Homo sapiens: one gene and its partners. The protein of the gene in region 2 interacts with the protein of the main gene of each other region in a biochemical or structural test. Each region holds a gene or a part of one and is shown on either strand. Other genes may lie near its edges.

Region 1 (7,027 bases), on a different chromosome or scaffold from region 2:
GACAGCCTGGCTCTTAGAGCAAATGCTTCTCATAGAGATGCTATTAGGAAATAGGTACCTCCTTCCTCAAGAGTTCTAGTTGTTGGGGTTTTAAGTCACGTAACTGTACATATTAGCAGGTAATAAGGGACAGGATGAAGGAGGGATGACCTTTAAACTCTTTGGATTTGATCTGCTTATATTAATTTTAGGGACGCAACTTCAGGATCTATAAATGATATTCAGGAATTCCTTTCATTGTACTTCTTGGCTGAAAGAGGTTTTGGTAATCGTGTTTGAACATGTAATTTATTCCTAAAAAACAAGGGTGTTTGCTTTGTGGAAATGAGAAGGCAATCAAAATAACCACCCACCGTATATTGAGCAACCAACCACAGTGTGTTAGGCATCATATTAGGATCAATACAGATACAATCAGAGTATTTTTTTTTTTTTTTTTGGAGACAGGGTCTTGCTTTGTTGCCCTGGCTGGAGTACAAGGGTGTAAGCATGGCCCACTGCAGCTTCCACCTCCTGGACTCAAGCTATCCTGCCATCTCAGCTTCCGAGTAGCTGGGACTGTAGGCACACACCACCATACTTGGCCAAATGAAAAAAAATTTTTTTTGTAGAGTCAGGGTCTTGCTGATCATTTGATCTCGAACTCCTCGGCTCAGGGGATCCTCCTGCCTTGTCCTCCCAAAGTACTGTGGTTACAGACTTGAACCACCTCACCTGGCCACAATAATCTTAATTCTGTGAAGTGAGTAGTGTTATTCCTAATTTACATTTGAGGGATTTTCAGCTCAGACTTGGCAGAGGTCTACCACTTACTATAACCCTGGCTGGTGTTCAAACTTAAGTCATTCAGATATCAAACCCATGCTCTTTTTTAACTACGCTAGTTATAGGTAGAACATTAAATGAGATGTAGATTATTTAGCACACTGCTGGAACTGCAATTTGATACATATATTTTGTTGAAAGTGGGTGAATAGCACTAGCTTTATATGTGAGTAATCATACTCTATGGTTGGGCTGTGTAAAACTTTTTATTAGGTGACTGTACAATGTTTATTTCAGATAGTGGCTTAAAAGCCACTTTTGTATTTATCCACCTGAATTATGCGCCTGTCAGTATACTGTTAACAGATGTCAGAATATGGTTTTTTTATGTGATTGCAGAGGGAGACTTCAATTCAGAATTTTATCCTTCATAACATTATAGTGATTTTAAAAGTTATATGCAGCAAATGTGTAGTATTTTTCTCATTTCAACTTTCACAGCAGTAGGCAGGTGGTTGTATCCCTTTTTTTATAGATTAGAAAAGTGGGACTCAGGAAAAGTTAGTTCACTTGTTGGAAATTCTGCAGCATATTAGGACTTAAATTCAGGTTTTCTGACTAAGAATCTGATGTTCTTTTTTATTTACATCATGTATATTGCATGCTCTTTATGTCAGGGCATGGTAATCAGATGATACATGATAGTCTGTGGCCCATTCAGTGTAGGCTTTGTTTTCCCCTGAATTTCTACTTCAAACATGCTTATCTGGCCGCTGTTTATGCAACTACTTTAAAAAAGGAACCATAAGGGAAAAATGAAGTCATACAGGAGAAAAACAGAAATGTAATTGTAGCCACTGATACAACCAAGCTCCTGTTTCCACTTTCTCTGGTCTTTTTGGGATTTTCTCCTTTTTGCCGTTACCCTGCCCTTTGATCCTATGTCCTTGCTTATGCTTGTTTTCATCAAGAAGAGTCTCAATGATATGCAGTAGAAAGAAACCATGGTCTGCTGTTTTGTGAAGAGTAGTGTGCCTTGACTTGGGGGTACAGGAGGAAGAGGAATGCAGAGGAGTGAGGATCATGGGAAAATGTTGAACTTTTCTGTTGGAGTTTCTTCGCCACTATGAAGGAAAACATTTTCCCATTAAAATAGAAATACTAGAATCATATACATAACATTTTTGGAATTTAATCCAAAACTTCATCTGTTCCGTTAAAACATACATAAAGAAAAGGAGTAATAAAATAGGTTGGGACTAATAAGCAGCAGATTATATTACTAAGATTTTTCACTATTACTGTAGTTAATTAGTTAGGTCTGGCTGATTATGGCTTTTAGAGCAAAGAATAGGATGAGGAAAATGCAGCTGTTTTATTATCACTAACAGAGATGTGGTGAACAATCCTCTTAGATGTTAAAAACGAAACTGACCCAGGAAGAGAGCCCTCATCAGTACCAGACCATGCTGGCATCCTGATCTCAGACTTTCAGCTTGTAGAACTGTGAGAAAATAAACTTATGTTATTTAAACCTAAATACATAAGTACACCTTTATCTCCTTTTTCCATTCTCTTTGTATGCTTGGGATCCAGGATACACAAATTGAAGTTACTTGTTTAATGATTTTATAACTATGTCAGAATTTAAGTTAAAAGTGAGTTACTCTGTATGTAGAAAGGCTGAAAATAGTACAACTGCAGTAATTCTGTCAGCTATAAGGGACGTGTGGACTGAGAGGGTAGTCTTAATAGATTGTGATCAACTATATGTGAAAACATTTTGTGTAGTGAGTTGATGTGTAGTTTACATGTAAACTAACTCCTTTAGTTCGAAAGGAATTTTATTTTACGTTAAAAGATTATTTTAGGCTGGGCTTTAGTGGCTCACGCCTATAATCCCAGCATTTTGAGGGGCTGAGGCAGGAGGATCGCTTGAGCCCAGGAGTTCAAGACTGGCTTGGGCAAATGGTGAGACTTTGTCTCTAAAAAAATTAAAAAATTAGCCAGGCATGGTGGTGCGAGCCCATGGTCTCAGGTGGGATGATTGCTTGAGCCCAGGTGATAGAACAAAACCCTATCTCAAAAAAAAAAAAAAAATTTTTTTTTTGTATGTATGTAACTCTTTACTTATCTACTACCTAATAATCCACAAAAATACCCACAAATCCTTAATTACGTGGAGGAGGAGGAGATGATAATAGAGATCATTTTAACTTTGAAAGATAATGGATTCCGGGCCAGATGTGGTAACTCACCCCTGTAATTCCCAACACTCTGGGAGGCTGAGGTGGGACGATAGCTTGAGTCCAGGAATTCAAGACCAGCCTGGGCAACATGGCAATACCTCATCTCTATTAAAAAAAAAATTATTAAGAAAGAAAGGGGCCAGGTGCGGTGGCTCACGCCTGTTACCCCAGCACTTTGGGAGGCTGAGGCGGGTGGATCACAAGGTCGAGGGATTGAGACCATCCTGGCCAACCAACATGGTGAAACCCTGTCTTTACTAAAAATACAAAAATAAGCTGGGTGTAGTGTTGCATGCCTTTTAGTCCCAGCTACTTGGGAGGCTGAGGTAGGAGAATCGCTTGAACCCGGCAGGCAGAGATTGCAGTGAGCCGGGATTGTGCCACTGCACTCCAGCCCGGGCGACAGAGCGAGACTCCGTCTCAAAAAAAAAAAAAAGAAAGATAATGGATTTGGTTCTGCCATTAGATCTGGGTTGGATCCTGGGTCTGCTATGGTTTCTGTATCCTTAGTCCAGTTTCTTAATTTCTTGAGTCGTCAGTTGCTCCGTTTATAAAATGGTGTTCAGTGATACCTGTGTTTTTAGCTTCTCAGGCTTGTTGTGAGGTGAACATATAATGTTTCATGTAAAGCACCTTTTAGATGGTAAAGCGCTATGCAGAACTGTTCTTAACTATTACTTCTCCCATTTAAAAAATTTGCTATCTTTCTGATTCTTTTAAGAATTCTGTGCTTTCCCTGTCTCATTCCCCTCCGATAAACTGGAGAAAAAAGGGCTTAGAATGATCACCCATTTTTTTACCTAACCACTTTTCCTGCATTTACACATTTTTTTTTAAAAGAGAAGAAATAACATTTTTTTAAGAGAAAAAAGTCCCAGAGAGATTAACTTCTTCAAGGTCATAGAGCTGGTGACAAAATCAACAGACCTTTGATTTAGTTCATTCATATCTGTAACTTTATACATATTTCTACTTAACTAATTTTGGCATATTTTACGCTTTTTTTTTTTTTTTTTTAAAGGACAGGGCCTAACATGCCCAGGCTGGAGTGCAGTGGTGCAATTATGGCTTACTGCAGCCTCCAGCTCCTGGGCTCAAACAATCCTCCCACTTGAGTCTCCGTAGTAGCTGGGACTACAGGCATGTGTCACCACACCTGGATAATTTCTTAAATTTTTTTGTAGAGACGGGATCTCGTTATGTTGTCTAGGCTGGTCTAGAACTGTTGGCCTCAAATGATCCTCCTGCCTTGGTCTCCCAAAGTGCTGGCTCATGCCTGTAATCCTAGCACTTTGGGAGGCCAGGGTGGGCGGATTTGCTTGAGCCCAGGAGTTCCAGACCAGGGGGCAACGTGGTGAAACCCATCTCTAAAAACAATACAAAAATTAACCAGGCATGGTGGCACATGTCTGTAGTCCCAGCTTCTTGAGGGGCTGAGGTGGGAGGATCGCTTGAGCCTGGGAGGTAGAGGTTGCAGTGAGCTGTGATTGCACCACTGCACTTCATCCAGCCTGGGTGACAGCGAGAGCCTGTCTCAAAAAAAAAAAAAAAAAAGTGCTGGGATTACAGGTATGAGCCATCGCACTGGGCCTCTGCCATTTTTGAGAATATGCTTGAACATTCGAGACTTTCTTCTCCCTTTTGCTTCTGTCATTCTACATGTTGGCTTATCTGACATTCTAGTTTAAATTTTTCTCCTACCTAATTTTCTTAAATGTTCTTTATCCATCTGTCTTTCCTCTGATACTATTTAAAGCCGTTTGCCCTGAAGTAGGCCTACCCTCTCTTGTTTCTTTAGTAGGAGCTGTCTTCCCACTCTGTGTTTCTGAGTGACAGTTTACTCCTGTTTTCCTTTCCCTTTTCTCTCCCATCAGGCTTGAAATCTTTGTTCTTCTTCCATGTTTTCTGAAGCCTGTGCCTTTCTGATATGCCTTTGGATTGATGTTGTCAGCTTAGTTGTTTTTGTTTAATTTTTCACTTTAGGCCTTTAAAGCTACCCCAACTATTTCAGTCTCCCTTTTATTCTAGCACATTCTTGGGCAGTTTCTTTTTCTTAGATTTTACTTCTGTGCTTACATTCCACCTTCTTTTCCACTGTGCCCTCGTTTCCACACTTGGAACATTGTCTGTGACTACATGATGGCATTCAGATAATTTACTAAGTCCATTTTCAGAGCTTGTCTTTGCCTTTTATTTCAGCTAAATCTCTTCTAAAAAAAAATTGATATAGATGGTTAACCAAAATCTTCTCTTACAACAGTTTATTTCATGCCTTATTTCGTAGTCAAAACTCAACTTTTCTGCCACCTTTGTACTTCATAATCACATTTTTCCATAACCAATTCAGAATTAGTTTCATTTCTGAAGAGCTTGGACAGTGTCTGTTGACTTGAGATCCCCATAAAGTTTTCATGAGTTTGGAATTCTCTTTTTTCTTATTCAGTGTTCCAGGTCCCATTTCTTTACCAAAGCAAAATACGTGTACTCTTTACCCTTTGTTATATTTTCTGAGTCCTGTTTTGATACTATTTTCACTCATTTGTTCATTCAACAAATGTTGAGTACCCTGCACATACAGGCCCTGTTCTAGGAGCTAGGGTGTCCTGAATAACAACAAAAAGCCCCCCTTCTCATGGACCTTATCTTCTAGTTGGAGGAAGTGTGGGGTGGGGAGGGACAGTCAATAAACAGATGTACAAGTAATACATGGCACGTTAGGTGGTAAATATTAAGATGGAGAATAAGATAAGGACAGAGTGACTAGGGAGTACTCTTTTAGATAAGATTGGTAAAATAAGGTGACATTTAAATAGTGACTTGAATGAAGTGGGAAATTAGTTATGTGGATATGTGGAAGAGGAGCATTTTCAGGAATGGTATTAAATAGCAAATACAGAGGCCCTAACTTGAAATGTGTTTGGTGTGTTCAGAAAACAGCAAGCACGGCACTTTGGGAGGTCGAGGTGGGCGGATCACTTGAGGTCAGGAGTTCGAGACCAGCCTGGCCAACATGGTGAAACCTCACCTCTACTAAAAATACAAAAATTAGCCAGGCGTGATGACATCCGCCTGTAGTCCCAGCTACTCTGGAGGCTGAGGCAGGAGAATTACTTGAACCCAGGAGGTGGAGCTTGCAGTGAGCCAAGATGATGCCACCGCACTCCAACCTGGGCAGCAGCGTGAGACTCTGTCTCAAAAAAAGAAACAGAAAACAGCAAGGAAACCACTGTGGTTTTAGTGGAAGGAGTAAAGGATATGTGATTGATGTAGTAGGATAGGAAATGAGATCAGTTTGTGTAGGATATATTCTGGATATATTTTGAAAGTAGAATCAAATGAGATTTGCTGATACATTAGATGTGGGGTATGAAAGAATGGAAGAGTCATGAATGACTTAAAGGGTTTTGGCTTGAGCGATTGGAAGGAAATTATTGTTTTATTTTGACCTAAGTCTTCTGCTTTTCTTCTCTTGCCCCCACTTTTTCAGTGTTGCCATTTATGATAGCTTGCTGACACTTACTTCCCAGCCAAGCAACAAGAAAAAAGTTATATGTTCTATATTTTCACATTCCTTCAAATTGGCTGTGCTAGCTACTACTACTGTTGACCTTCTAGCCCCATCCTTTCTTCTCTAGAGGTTTTAAGGTTTCTCTGTGCAGTATGCTTGTATCAGCTCTACCAGTGGAACCGCCTTCAGGAATTATTGCAGGAAACCTTGCAACACTTTTAGTGTTGTCTATAAGTATGTCTGTGCTTCCTTGCATGAACCACTCATTCAAGATGGCTTGTGAATCCACGTAAAAAGAAATATACGAAGTTTGAACTTTAGGGGAACATTAGAGAAAATTGAATGGTTCAACATAAGGGAAGCATAGATTTAGATTCAATGTCAAAATGAAGTCAGAAATAAAACATCTTCATTTAAACCTACTGTTGAAAATAAAACTGTTACAGAAAATTGGGAAGAATGGAATTACCGTAAAATATCAAAAATAGTTCCACTGACTTATCAA
Region 2 (7,027 bases):
CTGGGGTGACAAATATTCATGCATTTATTCAAGTATTTACTGAGTACCTGCTCTTTGCAAGTCATAATTCTAAACACTATGGAAACAGGAGAGAATATGATAGCCATGTTCGGCCTGGGGAGACAGATACCAAATAACTAATTACACATTATTTTTTTTAATTTTTTTGTTTTTTGAAACAGTCTTGCTCTTTTGCCCGGGCTGCAACCTCTACCTCCCTGGTTCAAGCAATTGTCCTGCCTCAGTCTCTTGAGTAACTGGAACTACAGCCACAGGCCACCATGCCCATCTATTTTTTTTTTTTTTTTTTGAGACAGAGTCTCGCTCTGTCGCCCAGGCTGGAGTGCAGTGGAGCGATCTCGGCTCACTGAAAGCTCCACCTCCTGGATGCACGCCACTCTCCTGCCTCAGCCTCCCGAGTAGCTGGGACTACAGGCGCCCGCCACCACGGCCAGCTAATTTTTTTGTATTTTTAGTAGAGACGGGGTTTCACCATGTTAGCCAGGATGGTCTCAATCTCCTGACCTCGTAATCTGCTCTCCTCGGCCACCCAAAGTGCCGGGATTACAGGTGTGAGCCACCGCGCCTGGCCTAATTTTTGTTTTGTTTTGTTTTTGAGATGGAGTCGCACTCTGTCACCCAGGCTGAAGTGCAGTGGTGCGATCTCAGCTCACTGCAACCTCCACCTCCCGGATTTAAGCAATTCTTGTGCCTCAGCCTCCCAAGTATCTGGGATTACAGGTTTCACCATGTTGGCCAGGCTGGTCTTGAACTCCTGGCTTCAAGTGAGCCACCCGCCTCGGCCTCCCAAAGTGCTAGAATTACAGGCATGAGCCACCGTGCCTGGCCCTAATTTTTGTATTTTTAGTAGAGATGGGGTTTTGCCAGGCTGCCAAGGCTGGTCTTGAACTCCTGGCCTTGAGTGATCCACCTGCCTTCCAGAGTGCTGGATTACAGGCATGGGCCACCGCACCCAGCCAACTAATTACACATTTATTTAATTACAGTTGGATAAGTGCTTTAAAAAGGTGGCTAGAATACCTTGACATAGATCGAGGGCAGTTAACAGAGTCTGGGAAAGTTGAGTTTGAGCTGAACTTTGGAAGAACGAACAGGAATTTAATAGGCCAAGAGGGATGGGGTGGATGGGATGAGGAAAAGCGAGCGGTGCATTCCAACTAGAGAGAACAGCATGTGGAAAGCCAAATGGCAGGAGGAGCACAGGCCAGTTTGAGGCAGTGCGAGGAGGCCAGTATGGGCAAAGCAGAGCACAAAGGGAGACTGACATGAGTTCAGGCTGGTGTGAGGTAAGCAAGGGCCAGAAAGCGCAGAACATCTTCAGAGCAGTAGGAAGTGACCAGAAGGTTATAAGCGGGAGAGTGACTTGATTAGGTTTGCATTTTTTATTTTTGTGTTTGTTTTTGTTTTTGTTTTTTTGAGTCAGTGTCTTGCTCTGTCATCCAGGCTGGAGTGCATTGGCGTGATCTCGGCTCACTGAAATGTCCACCTCCCAGGTTCAAGGGATTTTTGTGCCCCAGCCTCCCAAGTAGCTGGGATTACAGGCATGTGCACCAAGCCTGGCTAAGTTTTTGTATTTTTGGTAGAGACAGAGTTTCACCATGTTGCCCAGGCTGGTCTTGAACTCCTCAGCTCAGCTGATGCGCCCACCTGGGCCTCCCAAAGTGCTGGGATTACAGGCATGAGCCACCGTGCCTGGCCAGGTTTGCATTTTTTAAAAAGGACATTCTGGCTACTATATGGAAGTAGATTGGAAGTGTTATGTGTATAATAGAGGATACCAGGAGACTATTTGTAATTTGAGGACAAAGAGCTTGGAGGCAGAGATGGAAAATAAAAGAAAGGGGCCCGTCTTAGTGGCTCATGCCAGTAATCCCAGCACTTTGGGAGATCAAGGCGGGCGGATCACCTGAGGCCAGGAGTTCAAGACCAGTCTGGCCAAAATGGTGAAACCCTGTGTCTACTAAAAATACAAAAATTAGTCGGGTGTGGTGGCGCGCGCCTGTGGTCCCAGCTACTCCAGAGGCTGAGGCAGGAGAATCACTTGAACCCAGGAGGTGGAGGCTGCAGTGAGCCAAGATCGTGCCACTGCACTCCAGCCTGGGCAACAGAGCCAGACTCCGTCTCAAAAAACAAAAAAGGAAAAGAAAGGGAAGAGCTTTTTTTTTTTTTTTTGGAGACAGAGTCTCGCTCTGTCACCAGGCTGGAGTGCAGTAGTGCAGTCTTGGCTCACTGCAACCTCTGCCTCCCAGGTTCAAGTGATTCTCCTGCCTCAGCCTCCTGAATAGCTGGGATTACAGGTACGTGCCACCACACCTGGCTAATTTTTATATTTTTAGTAGAAACAGGCTTTCACCATGTTGGCCAGGCTGGTCTCGAACTCCTGACCTCGTGATCCACCCGCCTCAACCTCCCAAAGTGCTGGGATTACAGGCTTGAGCCACCACACCTGACGGGAAGAGCTTATTTATAAAGGAAGGTCACTGAAGGCGAAAAGGGTGGGATAGCCATGCAGAAATGGAAAGGTTTTGTAGAGAAAGAGTTAAGCATGGCCTGTCATGAGAGAACTGATCCATCCTGTCACAGATAAATCCAGAGGTTCAGAGGAAGGAAAACTGAGCTGCACTTTATTTTTTGTTTGTTTGTTTGTTTGTTTGAGATGGAGTCTCACTGTGTCGCCCAGGCTGGAGTGCAGTGGTGCGATCTCGGCTCACTGCAAACTCCGCCTCCCAGGTTCATGCCATTCTCCTGCCTCAGCCTCCTGAGTAGCTGGGAGTACAGGCGCCCGCCATCGCACCTGGCTAATTTTTTGTATTTTTAGTAGAGACGGGGTTTCACCATGTTAGCCAGGATGGTCTCAATCTCCTGACCTCGTGATCTGCTCTCCTCGGCCTCCCAAAGTGCTGGGATTACAGGTGTGAGCCACCATGCCTGGCCATTTGTTTGTTTTTGAGACAGGGACTTGCTCTATTGCCCAGGCTGGAGTGCAGTGGCTCAATCACGGCTCACTGCAACCTCTGCCTCCTGGATTCAAGTGATTCTCATGCCTCAGCCTCCCAAGTAGCTGGGATTAGAGATGCCCACCGTCACACTAGGCTAATTTTCATATTTTTAATAGAGATGGAGGTCTCGCCATGTTGGCCAGGCTGGTCTTGAACTCCTGGCCTTGAGTGATCCACCCCCTTGGCCTCCCAAAGTGCTGGGATTGCAGGCGTGAGCCACCATGTCCGGCCTGAACTGCACTTTAAAAGGAGCTGTAAGGCCTATGCATAGTCAGTCCTGTGATTGTTTCTCTCTCTTCCCTAGGTATTGAAAACCTTCCCTTTGAATTACAGAGAAACTTTCAGCTCATGAGGGACCTAGACCAAAGAACAGAGGGTATGTATAGAGTAAAAAGTTTTTGTATCTAATGAGTGTGTGTAATCATTTATTTTTCTACTTGATGTTACCGTATCATCTGGTATGATCTGGAGAACTGTGGCTTCTCTCGCTCCTTTTTTACGCTCTTGGAATTCTTAAAACAGGATAATGATCCTCATTTCTGTGTCAGCTTTTTCATAACAAATAGAGTATTGTGAAAACGCCTCAAGAATTCAAAGATGCTGTGTTCTTTATGTCTTCCTGGAGAATAATTAGCCAGGCTGGCTCACACCTGTAATCCCAGCACTTTGGGAGGCCTAGGCGGGCAGGTAACTTGAGGCCAGGAGTTTGAGATCAGCCTGGCCACATGGTGAAACCCCATCTCTACTAAAAATACAAAAACTAGCCAGGTGTGGTGGCACGCACCAGTAATCCCAGCTACTTGGGAGGCTGAGACGTGAGAATCGTTTGAACCTGGGAGGTGGAGGTTGTAGTGAGCCCAAATCATGCCACATGTCACTGCACTCCAGCCTAGGCAACAGAGCAAGACTCTGTCTCAAAAAAAAAAAAAAAGAAGAATTAAAGAAAGTCAACTCGAGTCATTTCTGCTCTCCACGTTTGATATATTTATAGGATGACTAGAATGTTTCTACTTCTCTCATTGTTAATGTTACTGTCACAAATTCCCAGTGTGACTTTAGACTGCAACATATGTTGGTAGATGGGAGGTTTGCTATATGAGAAGTCCTTAAAAAGAGAAAGAAAAAAGAAAGAGGAAAGAAAAAAAAGCAGTAATTGACAATGGGATCTCTATACCGTTCACACTTACAGAAGCATTAGATACCATCTCCAGCCTGGAACATTGAGCAAATTTGGCTGCATTGGGGCATTCACTTGGTTTCTTCAAAGATGTCTGTTGGAGCTATTCCCATACCCACTGAAGGATCTGTAGTCTTGTCTTCATTCTATGTAGCCATGTTCAAGGATGTAACAGACTGGTTTTGAGATACATGAAGCTGTGTCTTAAGTTACTCTGAGTTTACACATGAAAAGGTGAACATCATCAAAAACCCTGGACACAGTTCCCTGAGAACTGCCTGCCGAATGGTGAGAACCAGATTGCTTTTTTTGTAATACAGTTGTAACTCTTGAGTTCATGCATGGAAAGACAGTTGGAGATTATGGAACTATATGCTTTTTCAGCTTCTTCCAAGAGCCTGGAATGAAGTGGAGTATAAACAGTGTCTTCACAGATCCTCCTGGTTATCTGTTGCTGCACTATGTTAGAGTCAGACTTGTCTCTTACTACTGACATATTTATGAGCCCTTCCAAATATTAGTAAACATCTATAGTCTCAATGTCCTGGGACATTACCATTCTTCCAATATTAAAACATTTGGGGCCGGGTGCGGTGGCTTACGCCTGTAATCCCAGCACTTTGGGAGGCAGAGGCGGGTGAGTCTCCTGAGATAAGGAGTTTGAGATCAGCCTGGCCCATATGGTGAAACCCTGTCTCTGCTAAAAATACAAAAATTAGTCGGGTGTGGTGGCGCATGCCAGTAATCCCAGCTACTCAGGAGGCTGATGCAGGAGAATCGCTTGAACCTGGGAGGTGGAGGTTGCAGTGAGCTGAAATCACACTACTGCACTCCAGCCTGGGCAACACAGTGAGACTTGGTCTCAAAAAAAAATAAATAAAATAAAATAAAACATCTGGGAGACCGGGTGCCGTGGCTCATGTCTGTAATCCCAGTACTTTGGGAGGCCGAGGCGGGCAGATCACTTGAGATCAGAACTTCGAGACCAGCCTGGCCAACATGGTGAAACCACATCTCTACTAAAAATGCAAAAATTAGCCAGATGTGGTGGCGCACACCTGTAGTCCCAGCTACTTGGGAGACTGAGGCACGAGAATCCCTTGAACCCACGAGGCAGAGGTTGAGGTGAGCCAAGATCGTGCCACTGCACACCAGCCTGGGCAACAGAGCGTGACTCCGTCTCAAAACAAAAAAACGTGTTTGGAGCAATATCTAGGATGGACAAACAGGAAAAAAAGAAGTAATGGAAAATGAAAGAAGTTGCAATGATGAGCCAAATAGGATGGGCAGCCTGGCTGCAGTGGCTCACACCTGGAATCCCAACACTTTGGGAGGCTGAGGCAGGTGGATCATTTGACCAGGAGTTCAAGACCAGCCTGGGCAATATAGTGAGACCTCATCTCTAGAAATAATTTTTTTAAAAAAATTATCAGGGTGTAGTGGCATGTGCCTGTGGTCCCAGCTACTCCAGAGGCTGAAATGGGAGATCATTTGAGCTCAGAGGTTGAGGCTGCAGTGTGATCCATGATCATGCCACTGCACTCCATCCAACCTGGGCAATAGAGTGAGACCCTGTCTCAAAAAAAAAAAAAAAGAAAAATAGAGTGAGCAGTAAGATAAGCAGAATTGTTACATGGATGTTGGAGTAAGGTCTAATTTTAAATTGTGTGATATACTCAACTACTCAGGAGGCGAAAAGATAGAATCACTTGAGGACAGGAGTTGGAGGTCAGCCTAGGCAACAAACATAAGAGAGAACCTGCGCCTGCCTCTAAAAATAAATAGATTAGGCCAGGCATGGTAGCTCACCCCCAATAATCCCAGCACTTTGGGAGGCTGAAGCAGGCAGATTGCTTGACCCAGGAGTTCGAGACCAGCCTGGGTAACGTGGAAAAAGCCTGTCTCTACAAAAAAATAGAAAAAATTAGCCAGGCGTGGTGGTGCCTGAGATGGGAGGATCACCAGAGCTCAGGAAGTTGAGGCTGCAGTGAGCCATGATTGTGCCACTGCACTCCAGCCTGGGCGACAAAGTGAGACCCTGTGTCAAAAAGAAAAAATACTAATAATTTTGAAATGTATGATATTGATGTACAGACTTGGAAACCAGCAACAGCAGATGACTCAGCCTGATTTGCGGCAGACAACTGCTGTGGGATGTTTTTGAGAAGGAAACAATGGCTTTTGAGACAAAATTCAAGAAGCAGCAAGCCCTTCAAAGAAGCATCTTCAAACATGGACAAAAATACACTTCATATTAATGTGGTGTGCAAAGGATCCCTTGCTGTGTTTCAGTAATTTAAATTCCAACTATGATAGCAATGTTTTCAGCACCTTGAAAGGACCTTTAAAGCAAATATTGTCAGTATGTTCCATTACTTGAGTGCATGGCACAGTACCTCTGAACATTCAGTACTTTTTAGTTGGAAGGTTATGCTAATCAATGGAAAAGGTCCAAAGAACAAAAGGAAGAAATGTGTTTCACCTAGCCACTCAGGGGCCATTGTGACCAGGCCTCTGTCTCTGTTGTAGACCTGAAGGCTGAAATTGACAAGTTGGCCACTGAGTATATGAGTAGTGCCCGCAGCCTGAGCTCCGAGGAAAAATTGGCCCTTCTCAAACAGATCCAGGAAGCCTATGGCAAGTGCAAGGAATTTGGTGACGACAAGGTGCAGCTTGCCATGCAGACCTATGAGATGGTATGGCCCTGTTCATGGCTCCCCACCTACTTCCCATCTAATCCTCAGGGTCTTAGACCCCTCCTTCAACTGTGTTGGGATCTGTTTGGGGTCTGTGAGATCCATAAACTCTGCCTTAACCTATTTTCTTTAAT
Region 3 (7,027 bases), on a different chromosome or scaffold from region 2:
AGAGTAGGCTAATTTGAAACTTTCCTCAGTCAGTTTATTAATTAAACCAATATTTAGTACTTAAGAGTAATCACTTATGAGTACTTGCTAGTGATGTTACTTCATTTTACTTGTCAAGTTCTAAAAACTATTTTTGTGAAAGCCTAGACAAAAACACTAACAAATGTGTCCATCCTGCTCCCCACAAAAAGTTGGTCAATGGTAAGTAACCAATGAGAAGTTTTTAAAGCATGCAAAGAACTTAAGCCTTTACAGAGAAAGATAAATGGTTAAGCTCTTTACAACAGCTAGTTTTCTCTACAAGTAAATGGATGCTTAACTTACTTTACTAAGACCAACATTGTGGTATTTCTTTTCCATTATCTTCTTCACTGGTTCTTCTTCCTTAAAGGTAATAAAGCAGAACCCACGCCTCTTATTGGTCTTGTTGTCCATGGGGAGCTCTATGGATTCCACCTGGTATTAAAAAACAAATTTTAATATGCTAACATGCATTTTATTGACCTTAAAAGAAACACAAGTTTAGAGGGGGGAAAACACACAAAGAAAACATGTATTTGGCACTGAAGTTCTAGTCTCCTGTTTCTCCCTATTTATTCTAATCCTTTTAAGGAATTCTTCAAATTAGAACACCCATTCCATCTAAGGTCTTCACAACTATTTACAAAAATAAGCTTTACCACGCACTGACATTTACTACCTAACTCAAGGGTCACAAATTCAAATGCCCACAAAGAACAAGAAGAAAACAGTCAAATCTAAGAAAAACAGAATAAAAATGTATTTGAGAGAAAACAGGAAGTAGGGTGGTGAGGACTACTAAAAACTGGAGAGCATATGCCCAAACCAAGATGGAAGCTACTACTCAGTTTGAGAGATGCTGCCGTACAGGAGGGCAGCGTCAGTTCCCATGTTGCGTGCTCTTGCAAGTATTTTTTAAAAAGCTAGATACTGAGTTTTGTGGGCAATATCTCAAATCCTCAACACTAAAAAAGCACTTATTGTTTCAATCAAGCAATAAATGTCTGTGGGACGTATCTGGAGCCCAAGGCCACAAATTTCTCAACTTTCATTAATTCATAAAAGAAACCTCTATTATCTACCTATTTCACTAATGAGTCTAAGTTTGTTTTACTTTTAATTGAGACGGGGTCCCACTATGTTGTCCAGGATGGTCTTCATCTCCTGGTCTCCAGTAATCCACCCACTTCGGCCTCCCAAGTGCTGGGATTACTACAGGCATGAGCCATCGCGTCCAGCCTCACTAATGAGTCTATAATGATTAGTCTCATTAAATTTGCACTTACACATGCATTTCAACTGATAAGGCACTACACCCTATTCTTAATTCCTTTCCTATTTTCAACAAAAGTCTCCTTCTAATCTAGATTTCTTCCTCTTAATTGTCTGTATTTAAGAATGTTTGTCTATTTCATCTTTGTATACTCTACCCCAGCAATACTCTGCATAGAGTAGGTGCTCAATGAGAAAAACACATTATCCAACCTTCAAAGACCTGCTAATGAAGTATTTACAATATCCTTATTCCAAAACAGATCACATAATCTACCCTAACAGCTTTGAAAAGCCAAGTGACTCTGAGTCCATAATGGGACAATCACATTCACACTAATTTTGACATAAACTGGGTCAAAACATTTATAACATACCTCACCAAAACCACCAAAGTACTCCCTTATTTTCTCTTCAGGTGTATCTGGAGAAAGGCCACCAACAAAAATTTTTTTAACCGGCTCTTTTGTTTTCATGGCTTTGGCCCTTTTAGGATCAATCACCTTCCCATTCAATTTATGTTCTTTTTGATCCATGACCTAAGGAAATTGAAGTTTTCATTTAAAAAATATATATCTTAACTGAAGTTCAGAGACTATTAACTTACTTAAAAATAACTATAAATACAGATAATGCCAAGCATATGTTGACTTGCTCAAGATTAAACTGTCAAGTCATGGTGGTGATGTAACATCAACTAACATATACTGTTTAAATCTAAAGGTAAGAATGGTAGGACATACACAAATTTAACCAATTACTAGATAACCATTACCTTCAATATATACAAACATGACTGCTACTTCCCTTTAGCACTATATACAAACATAACTGCTACTTCCCTTTAGCCCAGGATCAAAATAATGATTCAGTTAAAAGTTGCTTGCCTAACAAAATTTCAAAATATGGACTTCTGTGAATTGCTAAAACACATCCTTTTAACTAGGCATCTTTAAGTCTATAGTATCTTTAAAGTTAATTTCAAAATTTAGCAGAGCCTGGAACACAAATTATTCAGGAAATAATTCCTGAACCTACCTCTATCTTCATAAAACGTATTGGGGCAAGAACTATTCTTCCTTCCTATACTATCAAAATGGGGAACCACAAATAGGCAAACTCATTGTATCAAACTATCCATATGTTAATATTTTATATTATTAACTGATCAGAACACGTAACACACTACCTTATCTACACTCTCCGATTCTTTAAATAGCACAAAGCCAAAACCCCTTGATCGCCCTGTGATAGGATCTAACTTCAGAGTGCAGTCTACAACTTCACCAAATTTGGAAAAGTAGTCCTTCAGATCTTTCTTTGTAGTGTCCCAGCTAAGGCCTCCTATAAACATTTTCCTGTAAAGACAAAAAGCAGTATTAAAATGCTTAAAAAAAATTGCCTTAAATATTATCCACATCAATAACACACCTTTTCCAAACTGCACCAGTTTACTGGGCAGTATATTAAAACATCATTCTTCCTACATAACCACACATCAGGAACATCCTATTCCAAAAAGCTGGCTTATTACTGCTGCTCCCAAATAATTACAAAATAGTGAGCAAGCAGCAAATTAAGTCTTTCAACTTGCTAAAAGATAAACATATACCCAAAGTAAAAATACTGTACATAAAAGTTTTCCTTAGATTAAAAAGTTAACAGCAAAAAAACCAGAATCTTAGCTTCAAATTTCTCTTCCAAATGTTCATTAAACTTGTTAAAATGCTATGCAGTTCCCCACTGATCTCAGCAACCAGCATTGGTGTCTATGCTGAAGCTCCTTTTCTATTTTAACAGTTCTCTCATTAACAAAACTCTTAGCACATAAAATGGAAAATTCTACATCTCACAATTAAGTTGTGAGCCAATTTTTTTGATGTGCTAAGAGTCCTTAAGACAAAAGTAATGTGCAATATAAACAATTTAGTGAAAATTATCCATTGAAGTACAATCCACTAATTAACTTAGATGATTCGTTTACAGTAGAACCTCAGTTAACCAGCAATAAAGTATTTAAGCCTTTAAAATGCAGAAAGTGATGGGTGGTAAGCGGAAATCCACCAAGACACTCTAAGACCAAACGTATATACTCAAAATAAAATATTTTAAGGCGAAATCTTACTAACATTACAGCAAAACACCAGAAAGTTCAGATCTGGCAGCTTTACATAGGCTCCCTTTGTACAAAAATAAATAAATAAATAAATAAAAAGCTATCCTATACCTAACCTTCTTTCTACCCTTTAAAAAGACAGGACTGGAGGTTTTTAATTTTAAGGGTAAACTGTCAGAATTTGTTACATAATGGCTAAAAATGTCACCATGGGAATCAAATCAGACTTGCTCAACATTTTCTCTTCTTTTTAACTGGGGAAGGGTCATGGGTGGGGACTGGGATGTGACACTAACTCAGCTCTATAAAGAAATTAAAGGCCTTTCATTAGGAAACATCTCCATCTTGTGGGCTTTTAAGATACTGCCACTAAGGCCCATTCTTGGAATAAAAGGCCAATTAACTGTCCCTTGAATTAGGGTCTTTCTTCACTTCCTCCAAGATACCTGATTAACTGAGGTGTTACTGATCTTACTATCCTACCACAGTCTTGTTTTACTTCTAGTGACAAAGCAAACTTTCAGTGCAGAGTAAGTCTTAGGTATATACTGCGCTTCCCACTTCAGGTTAGCTTTTCAACTTACATGTATTCTAGAGCTGGGCCATTTATATGCTTAATGTTCAGGACTTCCTCAAAGTTTCCAGGCTTGAAGTAGCATTTATAAAACAACTTTGGCATTTTATAATCAAATGAACAAAAATACCCATAATGTTTTGTGTATTTGAAATGTTTACTTCTTGCCAATTTCATGGAAGAAATTTGAGTTATTTTCTCAATATACATTTTCTTTAATTTGAATAGTGTGTACCTTCTAATATACAATCTTTATTTACATAATTTGCTATAAACACCTTATTTTTAACTTACAGGTCCAGAATACTTCCTTCACAGACAGAAGTTATTTACCAACATTCACCCTGTAAAGGTGAGTACACTATATTTTTAATGAGAAAGAGAACTGACTATAAAGCAATGACCTCTTGCTAAGATGACCATAAGTTCCACAACAGAAATAACTTCAATTAAGTTGAGATTTAACTATTAAATTACCCTTTCCATGATTATTACAGAAATTTCTCAATAATAACTAACAAACTTTGAAAGTATTTCAGCCTGAACACAACAGTTCTAACAAAAACATTTTTTAAGCTGTTGAAAGGCAAGAAAATTCTCTGTCTGGTCTATTCAGATATGGAGACAGAACTAGTTTTGATTTTATTTAACCAAAAAGCAATGTTTATATTGGGAAAATACCCTTAATTTAAAATTATTAAGAAACAGAAAACAATTACAAAGAAATAAATTAAAACACCAAGAATGAGGTATGTGGTATTATTCTGAAGCCCCAAATGTTTTTCAGACAAGAAGCAGATTTTCTTAAATATCACCTAAGCATATCATCAGCTGGCCCAGCAAAGTGCTCTCCAAACGTACTCCCCACCTTTAGTATGGTAGTTGTTTAATATGCCTACCTTAGAGCTACAAGGGTTCACTGAAGATGCTATCCCTCCTAAACTAATAATCAAATATCAATTATCCAGAATATTAAAAACTTCAGCTATCCAGCACTTTTGGAGAATAAGGAGCCAAGTATTATTCCACCTCCCTTAAAGCACCGCCTGCCCTCTCTAATCTTTCCCCAATTGTTTTTAACCTTCAATCATTTGAAATGAGATTTTTTTCTAACAGCATCACACTTTTCTGCCTTCTTATACTTCAAATACAGTAATCATAATTTAACACTATGGCTCAGACATCACTATTATGCTGATTTAGAATATCCACAGGGTCTTCTAAAATTAGCTATTAATACACCAAGTCCATCTCATTTCTTCACAAGTTCTACTTTTCATTTTTGCCAGATCACCAGTTGCTGTTCTAAAAAGTCTCCCTTCCGTTTTGCAGAGTAAGTAGCCAGCTGTCAAACTTTTCAAATTCTGTGTAAAGTAGAAGTCTCTAAGCAAGCACCTAAGTGGCTCGTCTTTGAGACAAACGTATTAATATTTTGGCAGCCCAAGAACACTCTGGCTTTTTCTTCTGTTCTAATCAAAAAAGGTTGTTGTTCTCAGGGTATGCTTAGGCTTTAAAAAAAAAAAAATGGTTGCTGACCAAATAGGTGAATATGCTACAATGAACACAAACTGGACCAATTCTATTCCATCTTTACTAAATGGAACATATTAATTCCATTCCATCTTTTTCTGTTTTTGGTTGCTTAGTTTTTGAGACAGTCTCACTCTGTCGCCCAAGCTGGAGCGCAGTGGCACAATCTCAGCTCACTGCAACCTCTGCCTCCCAGGTTCAAGTGATTCTCATTCCTCAGCCTCCGTGGGAGGGATTACAGGCTGCACCACCACGCCTGACTTGATTTTTGCATTTTTAGTAGAGACGGGGTTTCCCCTCGTTGGCCAGGCTGGTCTTGAACTCCTGGCCTCAAGTGATCCGCCCGCTCCAGCCTCCCAAACTGCTGGGATTACAGGCGGAAGCTACCATACCCAGCCCCAAACTCTAACTTTATAGTACAATGGGGAAAAGTCTGCTTATCTTAATTATGGATAAATGGGCACTTAGTCTCTACAATGTTGGCATACATGCTCTCCCTCAAACTGATGGCATAATGATTTTATATATATATGTGTGTGTGTGTGTGTATATATATATATATATACATTTACAAATACTTATTTTTTTCTTTTTAAACAGAGTCTCACTCTGTCGCCCGGGCTGGAGTGCAATGGCATGATCTAGGCTCACTGCAACCTCCACCTCCCGGGTTCAAGCAATTCTCCTGCCTCAGCCTCCTGAGTAGCTGGGATAACAGGTGCATGCCACCATGCCAGGCTAATTTTTTTTTGCACTTTTAGTAGAGATGGGGTTTCACCATATTGGTCAGGCTGGTCTCGAACTCCTGACCTCGTGATCCACCTGCCTCGGCCTCCCAAATTAGAGGCGCGAGCCACCATGCCCGGCTAAATTATCTACATATTTTCTATGACTGTATCTTGCTTTTAAAGCACATGTACTGTCTGTCCAGATTACCTCTGCTGCCTTGAATACAAAGCATTTCATATTGCTGTCACTCCTGCGTAGTGCAAACACTTTCCAATGAAGTAGACAGAACTTCAGAAAATACCCTAAGGAGCCATGTTAAAAACGACCAAGACTTGTTCAACTAGCAACAAAGATGGCCCCTAACGCTGCAATAAGTTTAAACTTTGATCCTTAGTTCTAAGTGAATCAATCCCAATTAAAATGCAGGACTTCATCTACTGTATTTTATTAACATAGTTGAGTATCTTAATCCTAGCTGTGAACTAAATATTCAGCACCCCAAGGCTGAATATGGTATTCAGTTTAAAACACCTACTCCACAACAGAAGTCTCCTTGCTTTCACATTGGCTTCCACCAAATTGTAAAATTAAATGACAAGCATAAAGTTATACAACTCAGCATAGATAACTATCCAAGTGATATGCAGTATCATTCAGGAATTTAGGCTCCTTTGTGGGACATTTTATCATCTTTTAAAGCAAGTTAAGTTTAGAGGCAATAAAGACAAAATGCCGGGGTTTAAACCCTACTGCTGCCTTTTTTTAAGACAGGGTCTCACTCTGTC
Region 4 (7,027 bases), on a different chromosome or scaffold from region 2:
GGCTGAACCCCAGGAGCCCGGGTCCCCCAAGTGTCTCTTGGCCCTCAGGGACAGTCACCCTGCCTGCCCCGCAGGGCACATACCTGCATCCACTGGTCATCCATGTTCTCCTCCTCAGGGCAGATGGTCAGCTTGCACTTGGCTTTCATGGCCAGAGTAGTCACTGACTTCAGGAAGTCCTCATTTTCAAAAATACTAGAGAGAGCAGAAAAGCAGCTCCTTAGTGCTCTGGAATTTGAAGCTCAGCCTGGAAGGATTGGGAGGGACACACAGGTGGCTCAGGGGTCACCTGTGGCCTGAACAGAGGCTCCTGGCACGTCCGGTCCATCTGCTCTTAGCAGGCATTAGCTCATGGAATCCATCTAACAAGTTATGAGGCAGGAACTAGTGGGTACCCCTTCCACCCGTGTATTAGTCCGTTTTCACGCTGCTGATAAAGACATACTTGAGACTGGGAAGAAAAAGAGGTTTAATTGGACTTACAGTTCCACATGGCTGGGGAGGCCATGGTGGGAGGCAAAAGGCACTTCTTACATGGCGGTGGCAAGAGAAAATGAGGAAGAAGAAAAAGGAGAAAAACCTGATAAAACCATCAGATCTCATGAGACTTATTCACTATCATGAGAACAGTATGGGAGAAACTGCCACCATGATTCAAATTATCTCCCACTGGGTCCCTCCCACAACACTTGGGAATTATGGGAGTACATGTCAAGATGAGATTTGGGTGGGGACACAGAACCAAAGCATATCATCCTGCCCCTGGCCCCTCCAAATCCTATATCCTCACATTTCAAAACCAATCATGCCTTCCCAACAGTCCCCCAAAGTCTTAACTCATTTCAGCATTAACCCAAAAGTTCACAATCCAAAATCTCATCTGAGACAGGGCAAGTCCCTTCCTCCTATGAGCCTGTAAAATCAAAAGCAAGCTAGTTACTTCCTAGATACAATGGGGGTACAGGTGTTGGGTAAATACAACCATTCCAAATGGGAGAAATTGGCCAAAACAAGGGGGTTACAGGGCCCATGCAAGTCCAAAATCCAGCAGGGCAGTCAAATTTTAAAGCTCCAAAATGATCTTTGACTCCAGGTCTCACATCCAGGTCATGCTGACACAAGAGGTGGGTTCCCATGGTCTTAGGCAGCTCTGCCCCTGTGGCTTTGCAGGGTATAGCCTCCCTCCTGGTAGGCCAGTTTCACAGGCTGGTGTTGAGTGTCTGTGGCTTTTCCAGGCACACGGTGCAAGCTGTCAGTGGATCTACCCTTCTGGAGTCTGGAGGACAGTGGCCCTCTTCTCACAACTCCACTACGTGGTGTCCCAGTAGGGACTCTGTGTGGGGGCTCCAAACCAACATTTCCCCTCTGCACTGCTGTAGCAGAGGTTTTCCATGAGAACACCACCCCTGCAGCAAACTTCTGCCTGGGCATCTAGGCGTTTCCACACATCTTTGGAAATCAAGGCAGAGGTTCCCAAACCCCAATTCTTGACTTCTGTGCACTTGCAGGCTCAACACCATGTGGAAGCTGCCAAGGCTTGGGGCTTCCACCCTCTGAAGCCACAGCCTGAGCTCTACACTGGCCCCTTTTAGCCATGGCTGGAGCAGCTGGGATGCAGGGCACCAAGTCCCTAGGCTGCACATAGCATGGGGACCCTGGGCCTGGCCTACGAAACCATTTTCTCCTAGGCCTCTGGGCCTGTGACGGGAGGGGCTGCCATGAAGACCTCTGACATGCCCTGGAGACATTTTCCTCATTGCCTTGTGGCTTAACATTAATCTCCTTGTTACTTATGCAAATTTCTGCAGCTGGCTTGAATTTCTCCTCAGAAAATGAGATTTTCTTTTCGATTGCATTGTCAGGCTGCAACTTTTCTGAACTTTTATGCTCTGCTTCCCTTTTAAAACTGGATGCCTTTAACAGCACCCAAGTCACCTCTTGAATGCCTTGCTGCTTAGAAATTTCTTCTGCCAGATACCCTAAATCATCTCTCTCAAGTTCAAAGTTCCACAAATCTCTAGGGCAGGTACAAAATGCCACCAGTCTCTTTGCTAAAACATAACAAGAGTCACCTTTGCTCCGGTTCCCAACAAGTTCCTCATCTCCATCTGAGACCATCTCAGTCTGGATTTCATTGTTCATATCATTATCAGTATTTTTGTCAAAGCCATTCAACAAGTCTCTAGAAAGTTCCAAACTTTCCCACATTTTCCTGTCTTCCTCTGAGCCCTCCAAACCGTTCCAACCTCTGTCTGTTACCCAGTTCCAAAGTTGCTTCCACATTTTGGGTATCTTTTCAGCAACGCCCCCCTCTACTGGTATCAATTTACTGTATTAGTCCATTTTCACGCTGCTGATAAAAACATACCTGAGACTAGGAAGGAAAAGAGGTTTAATTGGACTTACACTCCCACATGGCTGGGGACACCATGGTGGGAGGCAAAAGGCACTTCTTACATGGCGGCGGCAAGAGAAAATGAGCAAGATGCAAAAGTGGAAACCCCTGATAAAACCATCAGATCTCATGAGACTTATTCACTACCATGAGAATGGTATGGGGCAAACCACCTCCATGATTCAAATTATCTCCCACCAGGTCCCTCCCAGAACACGTGGGAATTGTGGGAGTACAATTCAAGATAAGATTTGGGTGGAGACACAGAGCCAAACCATATCAACTTGGGAGAAGACAGAATATGAGTTCACTGTTCAAGGTCACACCACCTGGAACAGTGCTGGGACCGGAATACAGTCCTCACTGGATTCCAGCCTGCGTCCTGACCACATTACCCTCTTACTCTTCTGCCCCTGAAGCTATCAGAAGAGGGGAGGAGAGGGTCTCCTGAGACCCCAGCACACTTGTCAGCGGCTCTCAGACTGCAGGAAGATTGCCTGGGCCTCCCCAAAATGCAGATGGGCCCCGTCCTCAGGGATAAGACCCAGCAGCTCACAGGCAGCCAGAAAGGTGCATTTTATTTAATTTAAATTTAATTTAATTTAATTTAATTTTTAATTTTTATTATTTTTAATTTTCTCAAGACGGAGTCTTGCTCTGTCGCCCAGGCTAGAGTGCAATGGTGCAATCTCGGCTCACTGCAACCTTGGCCTCCTGGGTTCAAGTGATTCTCCTGCCTCAGCCTCCCGAGTAGCTGGGATTACAGGCACATGCCACAACACCTGGCTAATTTTTTGTATTTTTAGTAGAGACGGGGTTTCACCATGTTGGCCAGGCTGGTTATTTTATTTTTGAGATGGAGTCTCACTGTGTTGCCCAGGCTGGAGCGCAGTGGCGCAATCTCAGCTCACTGCAACCTCCGCCTCCAGGGTTCAAGCAATTCTCGTGCCTCGGCCTCCTGAGTAGCTGGATTACAGGCATGCGCCACCACGCCCGGCCAATTTTTGTATTTTTTAGTAGAGACAGGGTTTCACCATGTTGGCTGGGCTGATCTCAAACTTCTGACCTTAAGTGATCCACCTGCCTCAGCCTCCCAAAGTGCTAGGATTACAGGCGTGAGCCACCGTGCCCAGCCCAGAAAGGTGCATTTTAAATGAGTTCCCAGGAGTTTCTGGTGCACAAGGTCCATGGGACACACTCTACAGGCCCCTGGGAGTTAACGTAGCCTCAGCTGCATCAGGGCAGGACAGAGGCAATGACAACAACAGTAGGGAACTTCCCTGCCTTTTTAGAGCCCCCAACAAGCAGCAAGCTCTCAGTGGGCAGGGGAGGGGTGACTGTTTTTCCCATCACACAGTGAGTGCTGCGGATGGAACTCAGGCTCTTTGTTGTCTGGACCCACCCCAGCACCCCAGGACCTCTCACCTGCACGCGTACACCTCCTGCGGGGGCTGGGTGTTGGGGGTCATGATCCAGGGCGCCACGCGGAAGACCACGCTGTCTTGGAACACCACAGCCTCGGGGAGCTCCTGCAGGGGAGGGGGTAAGGGGAAGGAGGGGCTGTCACCGCTGCCAGGGCCCAGCACCTACCACTTCCTGCAGCTGTTTGGAGTCCCCCTGCCCAGCTGGGCTCTGTACCCCTTTCCCTAGCCAGGCCACTGCCTGGAAGCCCAGGCCCCCGATGCAGGGCTGCCTTCTCGGCCTACCAGGTTGGACGTGTCCAGCAGGGAGATGGTGAGGGTAATGAGCCCCGGGAAGTCGGTGTCCGGGAAAGCGAGGGCCTCCACGTAGAAGTCCATGTTGTGCTTTCCACCGGGGACCATCAGGTAGTGAGAGGGCCACTTGGGACCCAAGACTACGCTGCACTTGGAGGACAGTTTGCCCCCTAGGAGAGAGGCAGGGGAGACTCAGGTCTGCGTCCCCACTTCTGAAGACTTTTCCTCCTCTCCTTAGTGCTCCCCAGAAGCCTTTCCCAGGGTCACCACATGGCACCATCAGAGAACCCCTTGCAGCCAAATCTGGCCAGTCCCCTTAGGAGAAAAGGACTGAAGTTCTAGCTGGGACGCTGCTCCCCGGCTGAAGTCCCAGAAGGGTGTGGCAGGGGTGCCTGAGCTATTCCAAACTTTATAGGAAGTCCAGTATACACCATTCCTTCACTCATTCCTGAGCATCTGCTCTAGCCAGATGTCAGCGGGGGACAGGGGCACAGCAGGGGACCAGGGAGACAGAGTCACTGTCCTCCTATCCTCACCCCCAGAGAGTGCACAGTCTTACGGGTGAGTAGGGAGAAGCAGAGATCATGAAAATAGCAGACAGCTGTGATAGAGGGAATCCCTGAGAACTTCCTGGAGGAGGTGATGCCTGGGTGGAGGCAATAAGTTGACCTGTCACCAAATCAGTGTCAGTTTAATCACTTTAAGAATGAAACAGGCCGGGTGTGGTGGCTTACGCCTGTAATCCCAGCACTTTGGGAGGCCGAGGCAGGAGGATCACAAGGTCAGGAGATCCAGACCAGCCTGGCCAACATGGTGAAAGCCCATCTCTACTAAAAACACAAAAAAATTAGCCAGGCATTGTGGTGGATGCCTATAATCACAGCTACTCGGGAGGCTGAGGCAGGAGAATTGCTTGAACCCAGGAGGTGGAGGTTGCAGTGAGTTGAGATTGCGCCACTGCACTCCAGCCTGGCGACAGAGAGAGACTCCATCTCAAAAAAAAAAAAAAAAGAAACAGAGGCTGGGCATGGTGTCTGTAATCCTAGTGCTTGGGGAGGCTGAGGCAAGTGGATCATTTGAGGTCAGGAGTTCGAGACCTGTCTGGCCAACCTGGTGAAATCCCATCTCTACTAAAAATACAAAAATTAGCTGGATGTGGTGGCACATGCTTGTAACCTCAGCTACTGGGGAGGCTGAGACAGGAGAATCTCTGGAACCCAGGAGGTGGAGGCTGCAGTGAGCCAAGATGGCACCACTGCACTCCAGCCGGGGCAACAGAGTGAGACTCTCTCAAAAAAAAAAATTAAAAAAAAAAAAAAAAAGCTTGGAATAGACCAGGCAGAATGATCAGGATCAGAATGATTGTCAGGCCCATGCAAAAAAAAAACCCTCCCATGGCGCTCTCCATCTCCTTCCATCCAGAAGCCAAAGTCAATATACGCCTACCTGACCTCCCCCTTCCCCTCTGCCCTGTCTCTTCCACCCTCATCCCCCACTTTAACCCTTGCACATTCCGCCCCAGCTGCACTAGCCTCCCTGCATTCCTCCAAACCACAGGCATGATCTCACCTCAGGGCCCACGCACTTGCCGTTCCCTCTGCCTGGAACGCCCTTCCCCTAGGTGTCTGTCTGGCTGTTCCTATACCTCCCTCTGCTCACATGGCACCTCATGGGGGACACCTTCCCTGGCCACCCTCTCTCCACACAACCCGAACTCCACTCCTCACTCCACATCCCCTTCCCTGCCGCATTCTTCTACATAGCATGTCACAGCGTTGGACACACTAGGTGTTTTATGTAATTATTTTACCTATAGTTCTCCCAGCCACTAAGATGAAAGCAACACGAGGGCAGGGACTCGGTCACAGTCATGGCTCTGTGCCCCGTGCCTGGGATCAACCTGGCACCTACTTAGTTGCAGGTGCTCGTGGGTCACTGAGAAGTTCCTGATGTCTCTGATTAGCAGGATGTTGCAGAACAAATGATTACATGCCACATGCTGTCAGCTTGCACTCAAAGTCTATAACCAGGAGGTGTGTGTGTGTGTGTGTGTGTGTGTGCGCGCGCGTGTGTGAGAGAGAGAGAAAGAAAAGCAGGGAGCAATAACGAGTCATTTTGTCTGTGTCCTCCAACTGGAAGGTAGTAGACGAGATGTCGTCTGTCTTGCCCACTGCTGCGTCTGCTGTTCTTAGAACTTGGCACATAGTAGGTGCTCAGGATTTATCTGCCACACAGCTGTGTGACAGGATTGTGCCCCGTTGGCCAGGGCAGGAGGGGAACAAAGATGGGGATGACTTACGTGTGGCCTGAAACACCCTCACTTTGTCCATCTCAGACCTGGCCACGTGGAGCACCAGTGTATGGTTTGTGAAGAAGTCCTTGGGGGTCTTCGTGCTCAGGGTCATCAGCGACATGTCCTGCAGGTCTGGGATGAGAAGGGCATTGCCTGAGTCACAGGGCCCTGAGACCGCTGCTGGTTTCCCATAGCCACCTCACCTCCTGGTGGAGCCTCACACCCCACCGCTCCCCTGAGACCTCCCTTTACCATGTTGCCTGGTTTTCTTTTCTTTATGCTATTTTGAGTATTTAAATGATGGTTTTCATTTTGGAATGAGAGCTCATTAAGGTTTTGGTCTCCTCCCACTAGGATGAGCTGGGGATGTAACCTCAGCAAAGCGGGGACCACATTTATTAATATTTTGCTCCTTGCAACGTTCCCTGAATCTTGAACCTAGAAAGCCGAGAACTCCCTAGAACAATGACCAGCAGGCGGCAGGCGCTCGGCTGAGATTTGTGCAATGAACGAGTGAAAGGTTTCTGTGCTGGTCCTGAGCAAGAAGTGGGGTTTGTGAACCAACTTGAACAATAGCCAAGAAGGGGTAGAGGGTGGGGAGAGTGAAGAGATGGTTCCCAAGGG

Evidence for each region.
Region 1: the proteins of ING4 (region 2) and EGLN1 form a complex in vitro, tested with the Homo sapiens proteins (one study listed by BioGRID).
Region 3: the proteins of ING4 (region 2) and HNRNPD form a complex in vitro, tested with the Homo sapiens proteins (one study listed by BioGRID and IntAct).
Region 4: of the proteins of ING4 (region 2) and PADI4, one has a biochemical effect on the other in vitro, tested with the Homo sapiens proteins (one study listed by BioGRID).

Annotation. Positions count from the first base shown.
Region 1 is NC_000001.11:231,412,275-231,419,301, reverse strand, and holds part of EGLN1 (egl nine homolog 1), read left to right. Parts: intron 1-7,027. UniProt on the Homo sapiens protein: Cellular oxygen sensor that catalyzes, under normoxic conditions, the post-translational formation of 4-hydroxyproline in hypoxia-inducible factor (HIF) alpha proteins.
Region 2 is NC_000012.12:6,653,096-6,660,122, reverse strand, and holds part of ING4 (inhibitor of growth protein 4), read left to right. Parts: intron 1-3,323; exon of another isoform or gene 3,324-3,324; coding exon 3,325-3,396; intron 3,397-4,209; exon of another isoform or gene 4,210-4,485; intron 4,486-6,726; coding exon 6,727-6,893; intron 6,894-7,027.
Region 3 is NC_000004.12:82,356,989-82,364,015, forward strand, and holds part of HNRNPD (heterogeneous nuclear ribonucleoprotein D0), read right to left. Parts: intron 2,652-7,027; coding exon 2,483-2,651; intron 1,833-2,482; coding exon 1,671-1,832; intron 457-1,670; coding exon 325-456; intron 1-324. UniProt on the Homo sapiens protein: Binds with high affinity to RNA molecules that contain AU-rich elements (AREs) found within the 3'-UTR of many proto-oncogenes and cytokine mRNAs.
Region 4 is NC_000001.11:17,339,196-17,346,222, reverse strand, and holds part of PADI4 (protein-arginine deiminase type-4), read right to left. Parts: intron 6,536-7,027; coding exon 6,410-6,535; intron 4,281-6,409; coding exon 4,102-4,280; intron 3,925-4,101; coding exon 3,821-3,924; intron 196-3,820; coding exon 84-195; intron 1-83. UniProt on the Homo sapiens protein: Catalyzes the citrullination/deimination of arginine residues of proteins such as histones, thereby playing a key role in histone code and regulation of stem cell maintenance.